Regions from separate parts of the Homo sapiens genome. Here region 1 is linked to region 2. The links come from fine-mapping of genetic effects on gene expression. A gene starts in region 2. The other region holds a variant in brackets. All regions are shown on one strand. Distances are between the middles of the regions. Region 1 overlaps SRPK2 (SRSF protein kinase 2). Region 2 holds the start of KMT2E-AS1 (KMT2E antisense RNA 1).

Region 1 (12,134 bases), 310 kb before region 2:
CTGTTGTTAATGTTTGCTACTCCTGCTCTCCTTTTTTCCCAACCATTATAAAGATTTCTAGCTATGGAATGAATAGAAATGGAGACAGGAGTCAATTCTTATGTTGTTACTGGTTTTATTTTATTTTTATTTTTTATATTTTATTTTATTTTTATTTATTTATTTATTTTTGAGACAGAGTCTCGATCTGTCACCCAGGCTGGAGTGCAGTGGCGCGATCTCGGCTCACTGCAAGCTCCACCTCCTGGGTTGACGCCATTCTGCCTCAGCCTCCTGAGTAGCTGGGACTACGGGCACCCGCCACCACGCCTGGCTAATTTTTTTGTATTTTTAGTAGAGATGGGGTTTCACCGTGTTAGCCAGGATGGTCTCAATCTCTTGACCTTGTGATCCTCCCGTGGCCTCCCAAAGTGCTGGGATTACAGGTGTGAGCCATCGCGCCTGGCTATTTTATTTTAATTTTTAATTTTTTTGAGACAGAGTCTCGCTCTGTTGCCCAGGTTGGAGTGCCGGGACGTGATCTCGGTTCACTGCAACCTCTGCCTCCTGTGTTCAAGCGATTCTCCTGCCTCAGTCTCCCGAGTAGCTGGGATTAGAGGTGTGTGCCGCCACACCCGGCTAATTTTTGTATTTTTTTTTTAGTAGAGACGGGGTTTCACCATGTTGGCCAGGCTGGTCTCGAACTCTTGGCCTCAAATAATTTGCCCGTCTCGGCCTCCTAAAGTCCTGGGATTATAGGCATGAGCCACCATGCCGGGTGTTCTTAAGCCACGGAGATGAGCCCTTTCTTCTGTTTTTCTACAGGAGAAAATGGGGAAAAATGCTGAATTGGGTGTCACTTCATTTTCTGTACCCTTTCCCATCTTCTGCTGCTCTTTGTTCTGTTTCCTAGCCTTCTATTTTTTTTTTTTTTTGAGACGGAGTCTCACTCTGTCGTCCAGGCTGGAGTGCGGTGGTGCGATCTCGGCTCACTGCAGCCTCCACCTCCCAGGTTCAAGTGATTCTCCCCACCTCAGCCTCCCGAGTAGCTGAGATTCCATGCGTTCACCACCATGCCAGGCTAATTTTTGTGTTTGTTTCCCAGCATTCTTAGTTTTCCCTGCTCTTTCTGTTTCAGAATCTTAACTAGGTCTGTCTCAGTCCTTGAGGTCTTCATCTTCTTTTAATACCCACTCTTCTCTTCCTCTCAAAACTACCTTATCCATCCACATTAGTACATGATATTTTGTTATCTTCTTTCATTTTTCAGATCTATTTGTATTTTAGAAAAGAGCTTTCTTTTAGGGTGAGAGAATAAATTAGATGACTAATAGGCAGTGTGACATGGTGAAATATATAAAGATTCAGGCAATGTGGGAGAAAAAAATTTGGGGGAGGTGGTTAAAACTGGCCCTATAGATCAGTAATATGTAAACTCTTATCTCACATCTGAGACTGGAACTTGCAGTTCTTATTCTGTTTACTTATTTAAAAATATTTATTTTATTTTTTAAGGGATGGGGTTTCGCTATGTTGCCCAGGCTGGCCTTGAACACCTGGCCTCAGGTGATCCTCCCACGTCAGCCTCCTGAGTGTCTGAGATTACAGGTACATGTCACTGCATCTGGCTGAGTTTCTATTAAATTTTTTTTTTTTTTTTTTTGGAGACAGAGTCTCACTCTGTCACCCAGGCTGGAGTGCAGTGGCACAATCTCGGCTCACTGCAAGCTCTGCCTCCCAGGTTCACACCATTCTCCTGCCTCAGCCTCCTGAGTAGCTGGGACTACAGGTGCCTGCCGCTATGCCCGGCTAATTTTTTTGTATTTTTAGTAGAGATGGGGTTTCACCGTGTTAGCAAGGATGGTCTCGATCTCCTGACCTTGTGATCCACCCGTCTCGGCCTCCCAAAGTGCTGGGATTACAGGTGTGAGCCACTGCGCCTGGCCTTTTTTTTTTTTTTTTTTTTTGAGACAGAGCCTGGCTCTGTCACTGAGGCTGGAGTCAGTGGCCTGATCGCAGCTCACTGCAACCTCTACCTCCCAGGTGCAAATGATTCTCCTGCCTCAGCCTCCTGAATAGCTGGGATTACAGTCGCCTGCCACCACACCTGGCTAATTTTTTGTATTTTTAGTAGACACGAGGTTTCACCATGTTTGCCAGGCTGGTCTCAAACTCTTGACTTCAAGTGACCCACCCGCCTCGGCTTCCCAAAATGCTGAGATTACAGGTGTGAGCCACTGCCCCCGGCCTTTAAAAAGTGCTTTAAAAAATACATTGGGCTGCATATTGATTTATCACTCCTTCCACTCTGCAATCTACCCTCCTGCCCTGATCCATTTTGGATGCAGTTGGGGATTTTGATTGGAGTGAGCCCAGGGATAGAGTCATTTGTATGTCTCCCCTGGAAGTCTGATAATCTGTATTTTTGGTATCTTCTAGAGGAAACTCCTATAGGCTGGGCATTGTGGCTCACGCCTGTAATCCCAGCACTTTGGGAGGCCAAGGTGGGCTGATCACTTGAGGTCAGAACTGAAACCCCGTTTTTACTACAGATAGAAAAATTAGCCTGCTGTGGTGGTGGCTTCTTGTAGTCCCGGCTACTCGGGAGGCTGAGGCAGGAGAATGGCGTGAACCTGCGAGGTGGAGCTTGCAGTGAGCCGGGATCACGCCACTGCACTCCAGCCTGGGTGACAGAGCGAGACTCCGTCTCAAAAAACAGAAACAAAAACAAAAAAACTCCTATAAATTTTAGAGTTGTTTAGATAAGCTAATCTGTATTAAGTATCTTGTGTTCTTTCATTCATTCAGCTAATATTGGGCACCTACTATAAATGGGCATTGCTAGGCCCTGGGGATGTAGTAATAAACCAGGACATGTGGGCCTCACCCTTCAGCATCTTGTTATCTTGTTATCTGGCTGTGGAGTCAGATGTGTAACAATTAATTCATCTCAAAATGGGGTGTAAAGTGGTGGGAGAAGTATCAGGTGCTAGGGGAAAGCTTCACCTGCACTTGGCAGGGAGGAGAGAGGTCAGGATGCTGGCCAGAGGTACAAAACCAAGAGATTGGCAGTGGTTAGCAAACTTCTTCTGTAAAGGACCAGATAAATAATTTAGACCTTTCAGGCCAAGTGACCTCTGTTGTAACTGCTTAACTCTGCCATTGTAGTGTGGAAGCAGCCATGGACCATAGATAAACAAATGAGCATGATTGTGTTCCAATCAAACTTCGTTTATGGACACAGAACTTTGAATTAACTAAGAATTTTTAGGTGTCATGAAATATTCCATTGATTTTTTCCCCAACCATTAAAACAAAAATGTAAAGGCCATTTGTAGGTCCATATGTTCTAACAAATACAGCTGGCATGCTGTAGCTTGCAGCCTCATGGAATATGCTGCTAAATTGCTCATTATCGGGGCTCTTTTGCTTATACCTTGAATTTTTTTTTTTTTTTTTTTGATACGGAGTTTTGCTCTTGTCGCCCAGGTTGGTTGGAGTGCAGTGGCACGATCTCAGCTTTATGCAGCCTCCACCTCCTGGGTTCAAGTGCTTCTCCTGCCTCAGCCTCCTGAGTAGCTGGGATTACAGGCTCCCACCACCACTCCTGGGTAATTTTTTGTATTTTTAGTAGAGACCGGGTTTCACCATGTTGGTCAGGCTGGTCTTGAACTCCTGACCTCAGGTGATCCACCTGCCTCCACCTGCCAAAGTGCTGGGATTACAGGCGTGAGCCACCGCGCCCGGCCACCTTTAATTCTTTACAAAAACACTTGCCATGTGGTAGACCTGTAGTCAGAGCATGCATTATGCTTTTAGCAGGAAAGAAATTTGTAGGCCGGGTTGAAAATCATAGTGTTTCTGTACCTCTAGCTGTTCTTTTGAAACATTACTGTAATTCTGGGCATTGAAAGGATGTTAGGATTTATGAGGGTGATTAATAAGTGGCATACATGCAGAGGGACTTGAATGGCATAATTGATAGTATTTAGAAGGCCAGTCATGATCTTGCCAATTATTCGCTGTGTAATATTGGGCAAATCAGTGCACTTCTCTGAGCCTTGTCTATCCATGAAAAAGAAAGTAAACTTGCTATAGTTATTTCTCAGGATTACTATAAATAATGGAGAAGATAATGTACTTCAAAGCAGTATGAAAAAGTTCTTTGTACTATGCCTTTCCGCAGCTTTCTTTCAAATTTTAAAAAGTCACTCTGGCCACCATATGGGGAATGGATTATAGAGTGGTAAAAGTGAAAGCTAGGAGACTAGAGAGCATGCTGTTGCAATAGTCTAGTTGGTGGGTTGTAATGTGGCTTGGCCAGGTGGTCTTAGTAGAGGAGATGAGGTGGTCAGATTAAGGACTTATTTTGAATGTAGAGTTGATTGGATTTAATGATAGGGTATGAATTAAGAGGAAAGTCAAGGATGACTTTTTAAACTTTTTACTGCCACACCTTGTTTTCCAGGATGATGGCTCTCCGCACCAGACCCGTGTCCCCGTGTGCGGTAGGGCAGTGTCCCGCCGGCAGGGGACCGGTAGCCAAGGCTATCCGAGGCCCCTCAGCATTGCCTTGTTTTTCCGCCTGGGCAGGATTCTGACTTAAGAAGCCTTCAGTCGTAGTCCCACAGATGGTAGCTTCACCCTGTTGGCTTCTCAGCCAAGCACATACACCAAAGAGACAGGGTCTTCTCTTGTTTAGGCTGGAGTGCAGTTGTGCGATCTAGGCTCACTGCACCCTTGACCTCCTGGGCTCAGGTGATCCCCCTGCATCAGTATCCCAGGTAGCTGTGACTACAGGTAGGCACTACTGCTACTGTGCCTGACTAATTTTTTAACTTTTTGTAGGCATGAGGTCTCGCTATGTTGTCTTGAACTCCTGGGCTGGAGCGATCCTCCTGCCTAAGCCTCCTAAAGTACTTAGATTACAGGTGTGAGCCACTGTATCCAGTTGAACTTTTTTTTTTTTTTTTTTTTGCCTTGAGAAACTAGGGGAAAATGATGCCATTAAATAATGGACATCATTTTTTTTTTTTTTTTTTGAAGACTTGGTTTCTAGTCTTAGTTCCTCATTAGGATGGCACGTGAACTTGTCTTGACATTTCTGTCTCTTGGTTCCTTTATGTGGACTGCATGACATTTACAGAGGGATCAACAGGGTTCCTTAGCCATACATACCAGCTCTTAATTTCACAAAGGCATGTAATAATC[G/A]CTTGTGACACCTTGTTAAAGAGCTAGAGAAATGTGTTTTATATAATTGTAAGCCTAGCTATTTTAACAGCCCTTCTCTGAAAGCATAGCCACTAGTTTCAAAGGTGCTCTTTAGTGGTGAGGTAAAATGCTTTCTTTGATTCTATTTTGTTAAATGTTTTCTTCATTGACTTGTGTGAAGACTTAGATCACTTGATTATTAAGTTAGTATGTTTAAGGATGTTGACTGCTGCCTTTCTGGGGGAGAATACAGTTGGGATTTATAAAAGCTTGCTTGAATGAAACTGCCTCTTAAGTGATTGTTAATAATGAATGGCTCCAGTTGACTTCTAATATACCTTCTGCAATTAGCATGGTGGATTTTACAATAGGAAAAATAGGACTATTGAGTATTAATGGTAACAGATTTTTTTAATTTTAATTTTTATTTTTTGAGACAGTCTTGCCCTGCCACCCAGGCTGGAGTGCAGTGGCGCAATCTTGACTCACTGCAACCTCCGCCTCCGTGGCTCAAGCAATTCTGCTGCCTCAGCTTCCCAAGAAGCTGGGATTGCAGGCGTGCACCACCACATTCGGCTAATTTTTGTATTTTTAGTAGAGACGGGGTTTTGCCATGTTGGTCAGGCTGGTCTGAAACTCCTGACCTCAAGTGATCCACCCGCCTCGGACTCCCAAAGTGCTGGGGATGGTAGCAGATATTGACAGTGCCAGGCATAGTGCCTGATGGACACTCTCACTAAAACAGCAACAGTCCTCAGCATTCTATGGGCCTACCAACTTTGCTTATTTGTATTGCACATTCATTAGCTAGATTTTCTGTTAAGAATAGTCTGGCCTGGTTGGGTGTGGTGGCTCACGCCTGTAATCCCAGCACTTAGGGAGGCCGAGAATTGTTTGAACTTGGGAGGCAGAGGTTGCAGTGAGCTGAGATCGCGCCATTGCACTCCAGCCTGGGCGACAGGGCGAGACTCCATCTCAAAAAAAAAGAAAGAAGGGAGGGAGGGAATAGTTGGCCCGGCGCAGTGGCTCATGTCTGTAATCCCAGCACTTTGGGAGGCTGAGATGGGCAGATCATGAGGTCAGGAGTTCGAGACCAGCCTGGCCACCATAGTGAAACCCCATCTCTACTAAAAATACAAAAAAAATATATATAATTACCCGGGCATGGTGGTGGGGGCCTGTAATCCCAGCTACTTGGGAAGCTGAAGCAGGAGAATCGCTTGAACCCGGGAGGTGGAGGTTGCAGTAAGCCAAGATAGCGCCATTGCACTCCAGCCCGGGCGACAATGTGAGACTCCACCACACACACACACACACACACACACACACACACACACACACACACACACAAAGAATAGTCTGACCAAAGTCTTTTTAAGGAAAGATAGTTTGAATCCTTCCAAAAATTTATTTTTCTTGAGCATACTTGAGTTGGTCTTTCATATCTGGAAGAATGCCTCCTTAGCTGAATTTTTTCACCCAGTTAGCTTGGGTCCACTACAGGAAAGATGTGAGTGTCATGTCCTCAAATTATTCTTACAGTGTTGATTATGTAGTACCATACCTTTTTGGAAATTACTGTGTTATTTCCACTTTGTTCTTCTTAGAATATTCACTCTAAAAGGCAAGAAACACTATTCCTTTATGTTTTGTGTTAGCATGTAGCATCTAGTACACTTTGGTGCTGAGTAAAGTATGTAGCAAGTAGCTGAGAAGAAAGACTTTTTTGTTTTTAACATTCTTAACAGTGCCAGTATTATAATTTTATTTGCATTAAGAGTCAGCCCTTGCAAAAGTAATAGACTGCCTACAGTGTCTCAAACACGGAATATGGGTAGGTGTTTTTAGAAAGATTCTATGTGGTTCTCCTTTGTAGTTGGAAATTTGAAATTTAGGAGGAAGTCATATGTTGCCTGCTATTTTCTAACATTGGTGAAGGTAATGCAGACTTGAATATTTGCCACTGCTTGGGTTTGCAGAAGGCTTTACCTTCATTTGTTTTTGAATTTTGTTAAGGAAGTTTTAGTGTATACTTTTCTCTAGCATTTTTGTCTCTAGCATAAAATTTCAATATTTATGTAAATGTATATTCTTACTGTTTCTTTTTGTAGGACTTTTTTTTTCTTTTTGGATGGAGTCTCACTCTGTCGCCCAGGCTGGAGTGTGGTGGCGCCATCTTGGCTCATTGTAGCCTCCACCTCCTGAGTTCACATGCCTCAGCCACCCGAGTAGCTGGGATTACAGGCATGCGCCACCATGCCCAGCTGACTTTTGTATTTTTAGTAGAGACAGGATTTCACCATGTTGGCCAGGCTGGTCTCCAACTCCTGGCCTTAAGTGATCCACCCACCTGGGCCTCCCAAAGTACTGGGATTACAAGCATGAGCCACCGTGTCTGGCTGGACATTTTTGATCCTGTGTTTTGTCTCCAGCTGCACCCAGGCTGTGAGCCAGGGAGGCTTTAGAGTTTTAGTGGGGACCATGGAGCTGTGGAGAGCATTCCTTGGCCGAAGTGGAGATTGTATAGACTAGCTAATAAGACATCTGTGCAAACTGTTTTTTTTTTTTTAATTGAGGTTATATTCACATAATATGAAATTCACCATTTTACAAGTGAACAGTTCAGTGGCATTTAATACATTTGCAATGCTGTGCAGCCACCACTTCTGTCTAGTTCCAAGATGTTTTGTCACCCCAGTAAGAAACTCTACCCATTAAGCAGCTGCTCCCTATTTCCCCCTCCCCCAACTCCTGGGAGCCAATATGCATTTTTGTCTGTGTTGATTTACCTATTCTAGATATTTCATGTAAATGCAATTATATAACACATGACCTTTTGTGTCTGGCTTCTTTCACTTTGCATGACGTTTCTGAGGTTCATCCATATTGCAGCATGGATCAACATTCAAGTCTCACTCTGTCGCCCAGGCTGAAGTGCCGTGTCACGATCTCGGTGCACTGCAGCCTCCACCTCTTGGCTTCAAACGATTCTCCTGCTTCAGCCTCCTGAGTCACTAGGACCCCAGGCACATGCCCCTATGCCCGGCTAATTTTTGGATTTTTAGTAGAGGTGGGATTCCACAACATGTTGGCCAGGCGGGTCTCCAACTCCTGACCTCAAGTGATCTGTCCGCCTCGGCCTCCCAGAGTCCTGGGATTACAGCTGTGAGCCACTGTGCCTGGCCCAACATTCCATTCCTTTTTATGGCTACATAGTATTTCATTGTATCTATACACCAGGATTTGTTCATCCATTCATTTGTTGGTAGACATTTGGGTTGTTTTCACTTTTTGGCTATTGTGGATAATGCTGCTGTGATCATGGGTGTACATATTATTTGAAGTACTAGTTTTCACTTCTTTTGGGTTTCTACCTATGAGTGGAATTGCTGAGTTGTATGGTAATTCTATGTTTAACTTTTTGAGAAATCTCCAGTTTTCATAGAAAAGATACCATTTTATATTCCCACCAGCAGTGTACAAGGATTTCAATTTCTCCACATATTTTCCAGTACTTGTTAGTTGTTGTTGTTGTTTTTAACTTTTTATCATTAGCCATCCTTGTGGGTGTGAAGTTGTGCCTCGTTTTTATTTGCATTCTCCTTATGAATGATGTTGAGCATCTTTTCATATTCTTGTTGACCTTTTGTATATTTTATTTGAGAGATTCTATTAAAATCTTTCGCTCATTTTATAATCAAGTAGTTTATTTTTGTTGTTGTATATATTCCAGGTACTAGATCCCTATCAGATTTGTTAATATTTTCTTCCATTCTGCAGGTTGTCTTTTCATTTTCCTGATAATGTCATTTGATGCAGAAAAGTTTTTAATTTTGAAGTTCATTTTACAGTTTTTTCTTTTGTTGTATGTGCTTTTTTGGTGTTATATCTAAGAATCTGTTGTCATACCCAAGGTCATGAAGATTTACCTGTATGTTATCTTCTAAGAGTTTTATGATTTCAGCTCTTATGTAGGTTGTTTGTCGATTTTAAGTTTATTTTTGTATAAGGTACGAGGAGGAAGGGGTCCAGCCTCATTTTTCTGCATGTGGATACCCAGTTGTCTTAGCACCATTTGTTGAATAGTCTGTTCTTTCCGCATTGAGTGGTCTTCATGTGCAGACTGTTATTGCTGTGCATGTGTATATCTGTTTATCTGGAATTCACTTTTAAGAACTGTATATGGGCCAGGTGCAGTGACTCACATCTGCAATCCCAGCGCTTTGGGAGGCTGAGGTGGGAAGATCACTTGGGGTCAGGAGTTTGAGATGAGCCTGTACAACATAGCAAGACCTTGTCTCTTCAAAAAAATTTTAAAAACTAGCTGAGTGTGGTAGTACCTGCCTGTAGTCCTACCTACTCAGGAGGCTGAGGCAGAGGGATTGCATGGGCCTGGAAGTTTAGGGCAACAGTGAGCTATGATCACACCGCCATTCCAGCCTGGGCAACAGAGCAAGACCTTGTCTCATTAACCCAGTTGTGCCTAGTGTTCCATTATTGGAACACTAAGCTTGTGGGAGTTATTTATATCCTGCTCCAGGTCATTGCCAAGGTCTGATTTTTCACAAAAAAAGTTTGCAACCTTCGGCATAAATGGGTTAAAAAAAGGAAAAGCTGTATATGAAGGTCTTTGGCCACAGTTTGGTTTTTGATGGTAGATAGGGTTTTGTCACTTGAATGCAAAATTAGCTTTATAACTATAACTTTGAAACTAAATGGCTAAATTATTACTGATTTTATTTTTATTTTTATGGGTCGCCTTACAAGATGTATTTAGTTTGCCTCTTGGTTTTGAGTACTGTGGAAATGAGCTTACTGGTTGCTGTTTCTGAAAATGTGTACTTTAACTTATTCTCAAGGTAATTATTGATGTGTTTTTAAACTGAAAAACACTGAAGAAATTTTATAGATAAGTTTTCTCCATATTTTGTTTCACATAAATTGTGTCCATTTTGAAGATGTAGTTCCTCTTTTCCTCTTCCAAATGATTAAACTGGTAAAATTTTTGTATTAGAGGAATTAAGGTGAGAGGTGCTGAGCAAAATATGAATCTTCCAAGGTTTATTCTTGTACCTTGTTAGGGATATGCGTGGGTGTTTGTGTGATTGTGAGAGAAACAGAATGTGTGTATGTGTCACTGATTTTTTAAAAGTATAGATGTTGCTTTATTATTTGCCTTAAATATATAGCAAAATCAACCTGTAGACAATGCACCTGAAGAGAAAATGTAACTGTGTGAAGATTTAATAAAGTGGATTGGTGGAAAGACCATTTTATTATTTGGAATGTTATTATTTGGAATGTTAACAGAAAAACTTCAGCTGAATTAAATTTAAAGGAGTTTAATTGAGCAGTGAACAATTCGCGAGTCGGGCAGCCCCAAGAATCACGGGAGATTCAGAGACTGCAGTGCAGCTATGTGGTGGAAGAAGATTTATAGACAAAAAAAAAAAAAAAGGGGGGGAAGTGATGTCCAGAACTCGGAAGTGAGGTACAGAAACAGTCAGGTTGGTTACAGGTCAGCATTTGCCTTAGCTGAACACAGTTTGAACACTCAGCAGTGTATGAATGGTTAAAGTACGGCTGCTGGAATTTGCCAGGACTCAGCTGTATTTACAGGCGCATACCCATAGTTACGTTTTTCAATCTTGTCTACCTGTTAGCTTATGGATCCTCCACAAGGACTTAAATATTGAAGTACGGAGTCCTTCTCAGGCCATATTTAGTTTCCTTTAACCGGAAAAGTAACTAGAAAAAAAGTGTTTAAAGGGGCTTATATTCTCCCCCTGCCATCCACCGCCCCCCCCCCCCCCGCCGCAAGTGCATTAAATTTAAGAGTGGATGTTGAAAATAAAAACTAAAAATTGTTAATCACCAGTATGTTTCTTAAGTAAGCTTTCAAGAATGTAGAAGGAACAAAGAGGAAGGTAATTTTTAGCCTTGATAATGTTAAAAAAAATTCACAAAACCATAAATGGAGGGCTGTATACTTAAACTCTTCTATTCTTAGAAACGAACCTATGGTAGTAGATTATTCCATTTTGATTATAACTCAGGCCATATTGAAAAGGACGTTTGCAGTGATGAAAAACTGTGATTCCTTGATTAACGTGTAGAATTTAAAAATAGTGTGTTACATTTTCACAGAAATTAGATCTGTGAACATATGTTTTTCTTAGCTGTGATTTCCAAATTAATTTTGAAATATTGAGTGAATTAAGCAGTTTTAAAAGATGCAACAGATTTAATTTTCACCCTTTTGGATTTGTTTTTATTTTAGCTGAGATGTGATTCTTGTTTTACTTGAAAATATTGCTTGGGTTTTGTTTTAAAACATGAATTTTACTCATTCATGTAAATTATGTTTTATAGGTCGGCTTGTCATCATTTGATTTGTGACTCTCTATTCTTTGGAATACAGTGGTTAAAAACTGGATATGTAAAATACTGATACCTCGCTGCTATTACCAGGATTTTATACCAGTGTCTAGTGGAATAGACCAAAGGACAGAGTCCTTGGACTCAGAACTTGCATGAATTCTGCAGTGTGCAAGAGTTTTCTGGAGAATTGGTACCTTACTCATATTCTCAAAGGGGATGGTGAGAAGCGTGTTTCAAAAAAGGTTGATTAAGCTAGAATATTGACAGTGAAGTTATTTGCTCTTAAGTGTGTGACGGAAAGAACATAAAATGAGTACTGAGTGACATTTCTGTTTACCCAAATAGCCTGTATTAAGGAATTTGGTAATGGTATAAACACTGATTCTTAAACATTTTGCTCTTAGGACAGACTCTAAAAAATTATTTAGGAGCCCAAAGAGCCTTTTAATGCAGTTTATATCAATTGGTACTTGCTTTGTCAGAAATTAAAAACGTGTAGTTGTCAATACACTTACTGTATGTTAACAAATAGCATATTTTTAGGCTGGGTGCAGTGGCTCACG
Region 2 (12,134 bases):
TAAACAGAGTATTTTATATAAAGTAAAATACTCATTTTATATTATACAAAGTAAAATACTGTTTATTTTATATAATGCAAAATACTCATTGTTTAATAGCAATTGCAAGATTTTTAGTTAAATACCATCCACTTCCAGTTTAGTGTAGAAAACAATTTCAACAACAAATACTGTTCCTCCATGTTAAGTAAATTTGTAGGTAATACAAAAAATTATTCTTTCAATGTCAAGAAAAAAATAAGGCTCCTCCCAACATCTGCACATTACAGAACAGGTAGTAAATACGAGCCACTTCAATTTTAAACCCAGCCTAAAAGCCAGTAACATTCACAGAGTAATATTTCAAATAGTATTCCACTCGTTAATTTGCCAGTCAACATAAAAATTAATTTTACCATAAAATAATTATATTTTCAATATTAAAAAGTCTCATAGATAATCTATCATGAAATTGGGGGAAACAAGTCTCACAGAATACAAGTATTTAACATTTATTCTAACACATAACAGGGAACAGTCCCTGATCACCCTACATATTTGAGATGTAAATGTGTTTGCTTCAATAAAAGATTCACATCCAAGAAATAATTAAGCACCTACCATCTGCTAAAAACAAATCCTTTGGAGATAAAAGCTTTTACACATTATTAAAATATTTTTAAAATAGTAAACATAAAATAGCATCTGTTGAGAAAACTGCATACTAGTATTTCCTAACCAGTTTTGATAGCTCTTCAAAGTTCTGTTAGTTTTACACATTTTAAACACACTATGGTTGTACACATTTAAGTCCCAGTAGTAGTAGCTTCCAGAAATGCAGAGCTGTTAGGGTTTACATAAAACACACCTTTAAAAATTAAACCACAGGTTTCTTTAGAAGATTGATGAATGAAAACGAGTACATTATTCTTGGAAATTAAGAAGCCAATTTAAGAAATTATAATTTCCCTAAGACCACTAAGATATGTACTGAGGGGAAATTTTTCTCCTATTAATTAGCTTTTCTCCCTACTGCCTCAATAGACTCAAGAAGTCCTAGAGCTTACTGGGGGCATATATGGCAATGATTTCTCTCTGGAAGCTGTGAGGAAGTCAGACGAGCCAAAATTGTAGGGCAGTTATCAGTCTTACAGAGTTGACGGGAAATGGAGACCTGTCAAGGCTCTACACTTAAACTGGAATCAGAGAGATCCTTTCATTTACACTGACAACGAAAGGATGTATGATCAAAATGTAGGCTCTAAAAATAAAATTAACTCTCCAATTACATTATAGTTCTCTACAAATCCACTTAAACAGATAAACAACTAATCCTTCAAACTCAGCTATCCTAGAACAAAGACCATTTGACTAGTTTCCCCCAAGGAACCAAATTCTTTCAAAACTCTCTGGGAACAAAAATTATGCCTAACCTTCTAATAAATTTGCCTAGACAATCCTAACTTAAAACACACATAGTAAATTAACAAAAAACAAACAATTATAGCCTCGTGATTTATAAAGTAACCATTCAAAATAAGGTACAATACTTAAAAAAAAAAAAAGCCAGTATCATTTTACAGGAACTAAAACATCAAAAAAAAAAACAAAAAACAAAAAAAAACCACCCACCACCACCACCAAAAAGAAACAAAACCTAAAGCAATAAAGCAAGCCAATATGAAGAAAGCTAGTAAACTGAAGACAGCTTTTCCTATAATTTCTAACTTGGTATTTTTCATTTGAAGCCAAATAAGTTCAATTGCTTTGTCTGTCTAGACCTGACCAAGGTCTCTATGAAGAAAACCATCGGGCACAGGCAGTGTTCCCTCCTATGGCCACATAAATCAAATTTTTAAGAATACACTGATTTTGTATATTGAATAGTAAGTTTAAAGTACCAAGCTTCTGAACCACAGACCTTAATCACCCAGCCTTTAAAATAAATGCACAATCTTTACACAGCAGTGAATGATCTGGACTTAAATACTTGCTCAGATCAAAATACAAATGAGTACTGACCCCAAAACCCTACACAAATTTCGCCCACTACCCACCAACATTTCACTTTATAATAAAATATTTCAAATATTCTAAGTAAGGTTGTGTGCTCAGTCTTCCATGATGAAGCTCACTGGTATGTAGAAAATCCTTGAGCCAGTTATTTCTCTAATTATTTCGTAGGCTAGAACCTTATCAACCTAGTTGATACAGTCACCATATGAAGTAAATGCTGCTCTAAAATATTTACAATGGAATAAAAGAATCATGAAACAGTGTATACTCTTCAACCTTTTAAAGTACTACTGGATTGAAAAGCACTCATCTTTCCGTTGCTCCACAATCAGAATGGTCATTAAATGTCATTAATGGCCCACTCACATCTCACTGCTTAGTTCAACCCAAAAAGAACTCCCACTACGAAAGTGAATTCTAATCTTTCACACTTTAAAAAATTCAGTTAAATGACACCTGACACCATTTAATTTTCAGTCTCAGTCTGTAAGTTTCTGAAAATAGCATAAAATGGATTCAAGACCCTATTATGGTAATGTTTTTATTTAAGGTCTATTAAAACAGACTAAATTCCACAATCCTATAATAGGTAAATGGGCATATTTGAAGAGGAAAAAAATCCAGAATCGGAGCCTTACTTTTAACTTACATAATGATGATAGTATGCTGTAAGACGATTGTTAAAGGCAGCATGAAGCTTCACTTTACCAAATACACAATAAACTTTGAAAATTCTTAAGGAAAGCTTAAATACATGGGAAAAATGGATGGCAAAATATAATGGCATCTCTACACCCAATGAAGTAACAGGTTTAAGCTTGTTTGTACAGCTCCCTAAAATTTAAGCTAAAACACAATACAAAAACCAAAATCCACAAAATGGGTCAAGAGGTGGTTGGGAAATGTCTTACTCTAGATTGAAACATTTAATCATATAAAATAGATGATACTTATACAGTTACTAAACATTTTAATCTACTTTGGCATATTGAATAAAAGATGGTTGGATTAAACCAAACAAAAACTATTATTGGTACCCAAATAATTTTTTTTTAATGTTGAAGCGCACCCATCATCACCACTGAAATTTGCAAGGCTGTTTTTTTTTTTCAAAAGTGGAGACATTTTATTTGCCTTTCAGGAAAAACGAATCAAATTAATCAGCTAAAACACAGCACTGTAATTTGCAGTAAAAAATCAACACATTTTTGTAACTGGCTCGGGGAAGGAAAAACAGCCCAGTCTTTTCATGTAAACATAATAAGCCTGTAATATGCTGCAGACAAACGCACTGCATGGGGTGTGGAGGACCCGAGCTGATTAGATTACCACAACATCAGCCTGGGGCCGCCATTTTTAGAATCTGTAAAGGACAAAAGAGGGAAATTTCAGTTTTTACTCCCCATCTCAGAAATTGAAGGAAAAAAACAGACTATTTTCCAAATAGGTATTCATGTCTCCAGCCTCGAGTTGAATGCACCTCACTTAATTCTCTCCAAGGTCTCCAGAACTCCAAACACCTTACCTTATTCACATCTCTAAAAAGGGAACAAAATAGGCAAAACGAGGTTTACTCTAGAGCTAACTCTAGCGATTCCTCTTTGACTTTAAATTGTATCGTTCTTAAGACAGAGCCCAGCAAGGACGGATCTATACGGAACTAAGGCCAGTAGAAGAGAGCACTCTGGATTGTTTTTTTCTCACCCCCACCCCGTTTAGCACAGTGAACCGTTTGTTTCTCATCTGTGTCTGCTGCCATAGAATTTGTGCCAATCCCTTGGTCAAAATAAGCTTTTCTGAAATGAGCCATATTGTAGATCCTAAGGCTCCGGCACAGTAAAGGACGGCGGTAATGCAAAAGGAGTGGGGGAGGAGACTGAGAAGGCTGGGTACTGGGGTGACCACTTCAGGGGCGGGTTTACCCTCTCCAGGAGAGGATGAGGAGCTAGCTGTCTCGCTCTCCCACAAAGAGAGATGCCCAGGGCGTTCTTCTTACCCCCTTCGTATTCATGTGCACATTATACCAGAGACTGCCCGTCAAGAAATGGAAGAAGAAAATGGGGCCTATATGGCTTTTCAGCACCTGAACAAGACGCGGTTGAGAAAAGGGAGCGCTGGCAGCTCCTGGGACCACTTCGACACAAACCCTACTAACAGTCACAAGCCTCCGTCTTCACTCAAGCGGCCTTAACCCGCTGCCAATGAGGAGTGCGCCCCCTCCCTAACTCCCCCACTCTCAAGGGGGTTTAACTGCCAGTTACCCCTTTCCCAACCCTAAAACCCGCCATAATGCTCCATTTCTAGGGTCAGGGAGAAGAAAGAATAAATTCGATTTAAGCAAGCAACGTCTTGCGCCGGCAAAGACACCTGAGAGTCAACGTCGGCTCCCCCAGCTTAAGGATAAAGATGAGAGACCTCCCTCCCCCTTGAAACACAAGTACCCCAACCCCGCAAGCCCCAGGAACTCCCATGGAGACGACAGGCACTAACCTGTGATGTTCACACACGAGACACCCGAACCCCGTTATGTGCTCGACCCCCAAGGAGTCTCTCCGCACCTCCGCGAACAGGCGACCCCCCGACAGCAGCCACTGCGGACACAGGACCCGGCTCCACACACCCCCTCCCCAAACAGCAGCGCGCAGCCTCTTCACCAGGAACCGAGGAGTAGGGGAGGGGGCAGCCAGGCAGTCAACAGGAACGCAGAGACGACGGCGAGGCTGCTCGGAGTGTCTATGCCCACTCTGTTGCCGCTCCCGAACTCCGGCACGGTCTCCGACTCGGCCCCCTGCGCCCGCTCAGTGTCACTGCCTCTCGCTCTGGGAAAATGGCGGCGGCGGCGGCGGCGGCCGCGGCGGCGGCGGCGGCGGCGGCAAGTGCACGGGGTACGCCCGTCCCGCTCCGCAGGGGCAGAGGGGGAGGGGATGAAGCTGCCCGGCGCCATTTTGCTTGTGGGCTGCCGCCCGCCGTTGCCTCTCCGCGGAGGCTCGAAGATAGCAAACTGGAGGCGGTGAGGGGGACGGAATCTCTGTCTTTCTGACAACAGATGCATTCAACAATCCACCGAAGGTTTGAGGAAGTGTCGGTATTCGGTGGGACTGGTTCTTTCCCCCTTTCCCCCAGTGGCCCTCAAGTCTGGATATAGGTGAGCTTGGGCATGCCAGTATTGGGTGCACGAACAAGGACAGCAGGGCTTGGGAACGAACTCCCTCCCGTCACCCTCCGAAAGCGATACACCTTCTCCCCCTCCCAAACAACCCCAGTCCCGTCTCCCCGTTCCTCTCCCCCTCCTCCCCCAGCCCAGTCTGGCCTCCAGCGCTGGGTGAACCCGGTTGGGGTGTCACTCGACGCCCACTAGGGGCTGAGGAGGCTCCAGTGCGCAGGCTCCGGGCACCGGATAAAAGCGGAGCTGGCGAGTCTAGTGCTGTCTCGATGGAGGAGCAAGAAACGGAAGAGGTCGGGGGGAGAAGCAGCCGGAAAAATGCAGCCACCGTCAACGCCGCCTCCCTGCCACCGTGCTTCGGGGTAAAAAGCTGCCGTTGCCGTCGGTGCAGTTGCCGTCGCTGCCTCCTATACTTCTCTTGGCCTCGGGGAAGGATTTCCCCACCGGTGGGACAATGTGCGGGGAGGGGAGTGGGAATTCCTTTATATGGCGGTGATTAAACGAGGGAGGGACAGACAGTGATCTCGAAGAAAAAAGGGGGAGACCAAAGAATAAAAGAAGGGTTTCCCCACTAAAATGACACGGCGATTCCGGCTCTTGTTTTGGGGGTCTTTCCCCGAAATGGTTTCCGTCTTCCCCTTGCCCCGCAGCGACCCAGAGCGCTGGGGGAAGCGGAGTGGGGAGAGGCAGAGGCGGTCTCGGCAGCCAATCAGCGCCTGATGTGTCCTGTCGGGCGCGTCGTGGTTGGCTGGCGATGACCTCATCCTGCAGCAGCGGGTGGGGCCAAAGCCGTAGGGGGAGGCTGTTGCAAAGGTAGAGAGGGAGAAGTGACGATGGTGATCGTTGCTGCCGCGGCCGATATGGAACCCAAGCAGTGGCGAAGGGAATCGCAAGGCTCTTCCCTGACCATTTTCTACTGTCCCTGCGCGAGGTGAGGGCCCCGGCTCGGCCTCTGCAAAACTTTGGGGCGCTGGCGCGGAGGAGGAGACAGGATTTCTCCCGTGACTTTTGTAACTGCGTCAGGGCAAGATGGCGCTGGGTCTCTTTGGGGCGCGGGGGGAGAGGCACGTCCACCGCCGCAGCGCATGTGACCGGGCTGCATTCCTGTGGGGTTTGGCTCCGACCCAGGCCGGGGCGGGGGAGGGGACAGGGCTTGGGCGGAGGAGACTGTGGTGCGGTCGGCGTTGGCGGCCTGAAGAGGAAGAGATGACTGTTGGAAAGCGTTCCCCTCCCCCATACGGCAGAACAGCTGCGGCTCCCAGGGGAAAGCCCCCGCAGGACAGTCCTCGTGGGGTGTGACGGCTGTTGGTGGAGAAGGTTTGGCGCCCTATTTTCTTATCTGCCTTTCTCCCCGCAAAGTATACTTATGTAAGGTGGTAGTTCCCTGACGTGGGACTCGGAATCAACTAGGAGTCCTTGAGGGCCTCTGGGAGGCCTAGCGAGGGGTAGACCAGCTTCTGGGGGTACAACGTCAAGGAGGATCGATTACTTTCTGAGGAAACAGTTTCTCAGATTGAAATAGAAAAGTATTTCCAAAGTTTGGAAACAAATTTAAAGGTGTAAATAACACCCAGGAACACTTTAATTGCTTTGAAAAGGCATAAGCAGCCATCTGAATTTAAGGGCCCTTTTCAGACTCTTCCTTCCTCCTGTGATTCCTGTTCTTTATTTCAGTTTTCTGTCTGTACATCCCTTAAGAATATAGTTTTGTCGGTGGGATTCGCTCTTTTGTGCCCAGGCTGGAGTGCAGAGGCGAGATCTCGGCCCACTGCAACCTCCGCCTCCCCGGGTTCAGGCGAGTCTCCTGCCTCAGCCTCCCAGGTAGCTGGGATTACAGGCGCCCACAACCACACCCTGCTAATTTTTTCTATTTTTAGTAGAGACGGGGTTTCACCCCATTGACCAGGCTGGTCTCGAACTCTCGAGATCCGCCCGTCTCAGCTTCCCAAAGTGCTGGGATTATAGGCATGAGCCACCGCGCCGGGCCTGCTTTTTTTTTTTTTTTTTTTTTTTGCACTGGGCATTAGTAATACGGAATAAAAGCCGTGTTTTAAACTGTATTAAGTTGTAAGACTTTTCAGTACTTTCAAGTCTGCTTTCTTTCTGTTGCCCTTTTGTAGTTTTTAAAAATAAAAGATGCAATTATAAGCACTTCCGGTGAATATTATTCCTTAAGGTTCCTGCATCATCATGAAATTTGAAGCACTTTTATAGTAGTACAAACTATACTTTTAGCTTTTGAAATCTCGATAGGAGAAAATATCCAGCAGTTTTAGGGGCTATTTTGGCATATTCATTAAGGTAGACTAAGTTTGTTTTTCGTTTTTCCCACTTAGCCAAACTAGTTAAAGTAGTCAAAACTAGCAAATAATTTTTAAAGGGCTTCTCCTTTTGGGTGGTGTAGAGGGTGGGGAGTTATTCAACAAACACATTTGCAGCCAAAATCTGGCCTACTTCTTGGCAGAGCGCTTATACTTGGTGCTACGAGAAAATGATTGCTGGACCTGAAAAGAACCTGAGGTCAAGGTTGTGCTATTTCCTTAAGTCTTAGTTGTAGGCTCTTGGTAGTTTGAAAACAAGATTGGGTTTTTAATTCATTTGTGTATCCTTAAATCCTCACTAGTTTTTGTGGATTTCTTTTTTCAGTTATAAGCAACTGAATGTGGATGAGCTATAAATATTTAGTACAAAGAATGTAATTTGTCCACTCTGAATAGAAAGTAAGCATTAAGAACTCTTGAATGTCTTCAAGGGTTACTTTGTTACGTGTAAGATGTCTCCCCTTCCTTCATAGCAGTTTTTATTCCTGCTTAAAAAGGGAACTAAATATGAAGTCAGTAGATTTTAAGGTAATTTTCAGAATGTTTCTACTTTCACCGTGCCTTAATAAGGAAAAAAGGCCATTTTCCAAGCGAATGGAAACACCCTTTCCTTGTTTTGTGCCTTTAATCAGCGTGTACCTTCATTGTTCCTGATTGCCAAATCCACGAACTTCTTGAGCTCTCAATTTTTCTTGACTTTCCTATGGCATTTTAAATACTGTTCATACTTGGAATTACTTTTCTTTGACTGCCTTCATACATTCATATATTCTGCCTGGGCAATTTCATTTGGGCCTATTATGTTCCAATACCTCTCCAATTTTCACCTCCATCTTAGCTCTGCCAGCTTCAGTGCCACAGGTAGGCAATGTAAAAGTTTACTGGGGACCACAGGCTTTCTGAGCTCAATAAAAATACTAAGCTTGGTACTTGTTTTTTAAGAATTTTCTTCCCCCATCCCCTCACAAAGATTATTTGAGTAAATTACACCCCAACCTCCTTTTCCTTGTTTTTGTTGAAATTATTGTCTCTTAACTTTGGAACATTGCAGTTGCGGTAAGCTTACTAGGTTCACATAGCATATCTTCTGGTGTGTTAAAATTAAAATGCACACCATCTCAAAAGTGCTATGCCATTTCATACCTTTGTGCTTTTGTCCTGCTACCTGGAGTGCGTCTTTCTCACTTCTGGATAATACAATTTGAACCTTTTCTTTGCCTCTTGAAACTGCAAAATCCCTACTCGCAAGTAAATGTGTCATTCTTTATGTTGATAACCCAGCCTAGTGCTTGACACTTGATGGGCATTCAGGTATACATGGTTTTTTAGAGATTGATAAGATTAACTGTGCAGTCTATAAACTGTAAATACTGGCTTTTAAACTCTTTTAAAGGAGCTCTTTTGATAAACAATTTGGATAAGAGATGAAAGGTTAGGGAGGCTCCAGGCAAGGCAGAAGACTGCTGATGGCCCAGAGATAGTTCTGCCCCAAAAAGGTGGGAAGAAGAAAAAAACTGAGCTGGATATTTTTAAGGAAATATATTTTATAGCATTTTTCTTTAATGCCTAGTTTTGCTGCAAGCACTGAAGTTTATCCTGCATTTGTATTTCTTATTTGAAAAAGAAATGGCCTTTGGGGTTTGTTTTGTTTTTTGTTCCTTTGTAAGCACACTGCAAAAGCGGCGTTGTCAGCGTTGTCTTTTGAGGTATCAAACGTGCTTTCAGTCAGCAAATATCTTGTATATAGTACCATTCCTAATAAACTAAATTGGTTATCAACCTAATACAAACGGTACTTCATACAACTTAAGCCTAAACTAGATTAGATTATGTAGAAACTTATTCTTAGAGAATATATCGCCTTAATATTTCTTATCCTGAAAAGAGTATTTCTTAAGTGCCCCTCTCAAAGTATATCGATTAATATTTGTCTCAAATTTAAAACTATATCCTGGTTTTTCCCTTACAGTTGTTTAGCAAGTAAATGTTTACTTACTAATTTATTTTCTCCCAGACTTCATTCTACCAGTTTAAGCTTAGCTCAGTTTTGTTTTTTGGTTTTGAGAAGGAGCTTTGCTCTGTCACTCAGGCTGGAGTGCAGTGGTACGTTCTCAGCTCACTGCAGCCTCCGGCTCCTGGGTTCAAGCGATTCTCCTGCTTCAGTCCGTGAGTAGCTGGAACTACAGGCGCACACCACCACGCCCAGCTAATTTTTGTATTTTTAGTAGAGACAGGGTTTCACCATGTTGGCCGGGCTGGTCTTGAACTCCTGACCTCAGGTGATCTGCCTGCCTCAGCCTCCCAAAGTGCTGGGATTATAGGCGTGAGCCACCGTGCCCATCCTAAACTTAGCTCAGTTTTAATGCTACTTCCATTTCTTTATGTATAGTTTGATGTAAGAATAACAGTTGGAAGTAAGGATTTAGGAATAACAAGAGTTTGGGATTTTTGTTTTTTTAATTAGCAAGGTAATGCCACATCAGGTCATTAGTGACATTAATGAGAGAACAGGGGAATTATTGGAAAGTCTTGACTTAAGGCCAGACGAGAAATCCTTAACTGCTAGTGTGACTTCCCTCCCCACAAAAGAGAATGCTCTCGTAATACACCGAACTGTTGGATGCTGTTGTATATACTTTATATATAATCTTACCCAAGGTGGCAGAGCATTAACTTTAACATCTGTCTCCCTGACCTCACCAGAGTTCATAATCTTTGCCCTACTTACACTGTCTGAAGGATGACTTGGCCTTTTTTTTTTTTTTTTTTTTTTTAATTGAGACAGAGTCTTGCACAGTTGCCCAGGCTGGAGTGCAGTGGCACGATCTCGGCTCACGGCAGCCTCCACCTCCTGGGTTCAAGTGATTCTCCTGCATCACCCTCCCCAGTAGCTGGGATTACAGACGCTTGTCACCGCGCCTGGCTAATTTTTGTATTTCGGGGTTTCGCCATGTTGGCCAGGCTGGTCTCGAACTCCCCACCTCAGGTGATCCGCCCATCTTGGCCTCCCAAAGTGCTGAGATTACAGGCATGAGGTGTGGCACAGGACAGAGAAAGACTTACTTTAAAACATACCTGTCTTCAACCCAGAAGAGACTGGCTTTTAGAGCCCTCAATGTAGCAAGAAGAGCCTGAATCAGAGCAGGAGTGATAAAGAAGGAATCTAAGTTATTACAGAAACATCCGTAATTGTTGCCTGGGTGGGTATAAGGAAGAAGAAGGAATTGACTTTCAAGAAAAATAATTGACATTTGATAGTCTTCACAGATAAAAGCCAAAACAGGGTAGATTCAGTCTTAATAGGAGACAAATTTAGCAAGAAAGCTGAGATCTTGGGTCGGTCTACATTTTAGGCCAAGGAAAAGGAACTGATTGCATTTGTTTTTTAAGATAGATTATACGCCAGTGCATAACATATTTAACCTAAGTCTGATTAGCTTTATAATAATTTTTAAATTATTCATAACTATCCTAAGCAATACCTTTTATTGTTAGATTATTATGTAATGCCCACAAATGATAGATAGCATTTGAAAGTAATTGCTGGCTGATTATAGGCATGGTGGCTTATGCCTATAATCCCAGCACTTTGGGAGGCCAGGGTTGGTGGATCACATGAGGCCAGGAGTTCAAGACCAGCCTGGCCAACGTGGCAAAACTCTGTCTCTACTAAAAATACAAAATAATTAGCTGGGCGTAGTGGTGCACATCTGTAATCCAGCTACTCAGGAGGCTGAGGCATGAGAATTGCTTGAATTGGGGAGGTGGAGGTTGCAGTGAGCTGAGATCGCACCACTGCATTCCAACCTGGGGGACAGAGTGAGACCCTGTCTCAAAAAAAAAAAAAAAAAAGGAATTGCAAGTAGCCTGTAATCCCAGCACTTTTAGGAGTCCGAGGCAGGAGGATCACTTGAGACCAAGCTGGGCAACATGATGAAACCCCTGTCTCTACAAATAATTTTTTTAAAATATTAGCCAGGTGTCTGGCACACGCCTGTAGTCCCATTTACTTAGGAGGCTTAGGTGGGAGGATCACCACTTGAGGCCAAGAGATCAAGATCAGCCTGGGCAACATAGCAAGACCCCCACCTATAGGAAAATAAATCCGAGCGTTCCAAGTGTTCAGCTATTCACCCACTTTAGGTTTCCACCTTCCTTAGAAAGTAGAGTAGTATAAATTATTTCTGAAATTTGTGAAACGATGTACCACATAACCCTCTCAAACCAGGTTGCTACTACTTCCAATGACTTCATTGATAAGGGGCAAAGTAACTCGAATGATGGGTGAGCTCATGACATGGTTTAGCTCCGTATCAAACTCTGGATTTGGGAAAATTGCTACTGATTTATTAAACACTTGAATTCTTATATGCTAGGTCAGAATTTGGCAACTAAACTCTCAGAAATTTGTAAACTTCCTTTTTACATAGAAAAGTGAATCCAGGCTGGGTATGGTGGCACGTGCCTGTAATCCCAGCTGCTCAGGAGGCTGAGGCATGATAATTGCTTGAACCTGGGAGGTGGAGGTTGCAGTGAGCCCAAGATTACACTGCTGTACTCCAGCCTGGGCAACAGAGGGAGGCTCTGTCTCAAAAAAAAAAAAAAAAAAAAAAAAAGTGAATATACTGTACTGTAAAGCCTGTGCACCTCTTCAT

Evidence for each region. PIP is the estimated chance that this variant, and not a neighbour inherited with it, causes the effect.
Region 1: its variant is the best candidate, but not a certain one, in a credible set for the expression of KMT2E-AS1 in whole blood (INTERVAL, PIP 0.81).

What each region holds. Positions count from the first base shown.
Region 1 is chr7:105,318,374-105,330,507 of GRCh38, reverse strand. All of the region lies in intron 2 of SRPK2 (SRSF protein kinase 2), which reads left to right. Among named protein-coding and RNA genes, the nearest start is that of SRPK2, 64 kb to the left of the region's middle. The variant G/A (reference allele first, on the strand shown) is at 5,191.
Region 2 is chr7:105,006,887-105,019,020 of GRCh38, reverse strand. It overlaps KMT2E-AS1 (KMT2E antisense RNA 1), which reads left to right and starts at 4,880. Exons shown (of 1, transcript NR_024586.1): 1 at 4,880-8,479. KMT2E (lysine methyltransferase 2E (inactive)) reads right to left here and starts at 4,816. Exons shown (of 27, transcript NM_182931.3): 1 at 4,486-4,816. RefSeq lists enhancers at 4,497-4,726, 4,987-5,106, 5,427-5,476, 5,268-5,807, 5,897-6,266 and 1 more and silencers at 4,787-4,876, 5,227-5,276.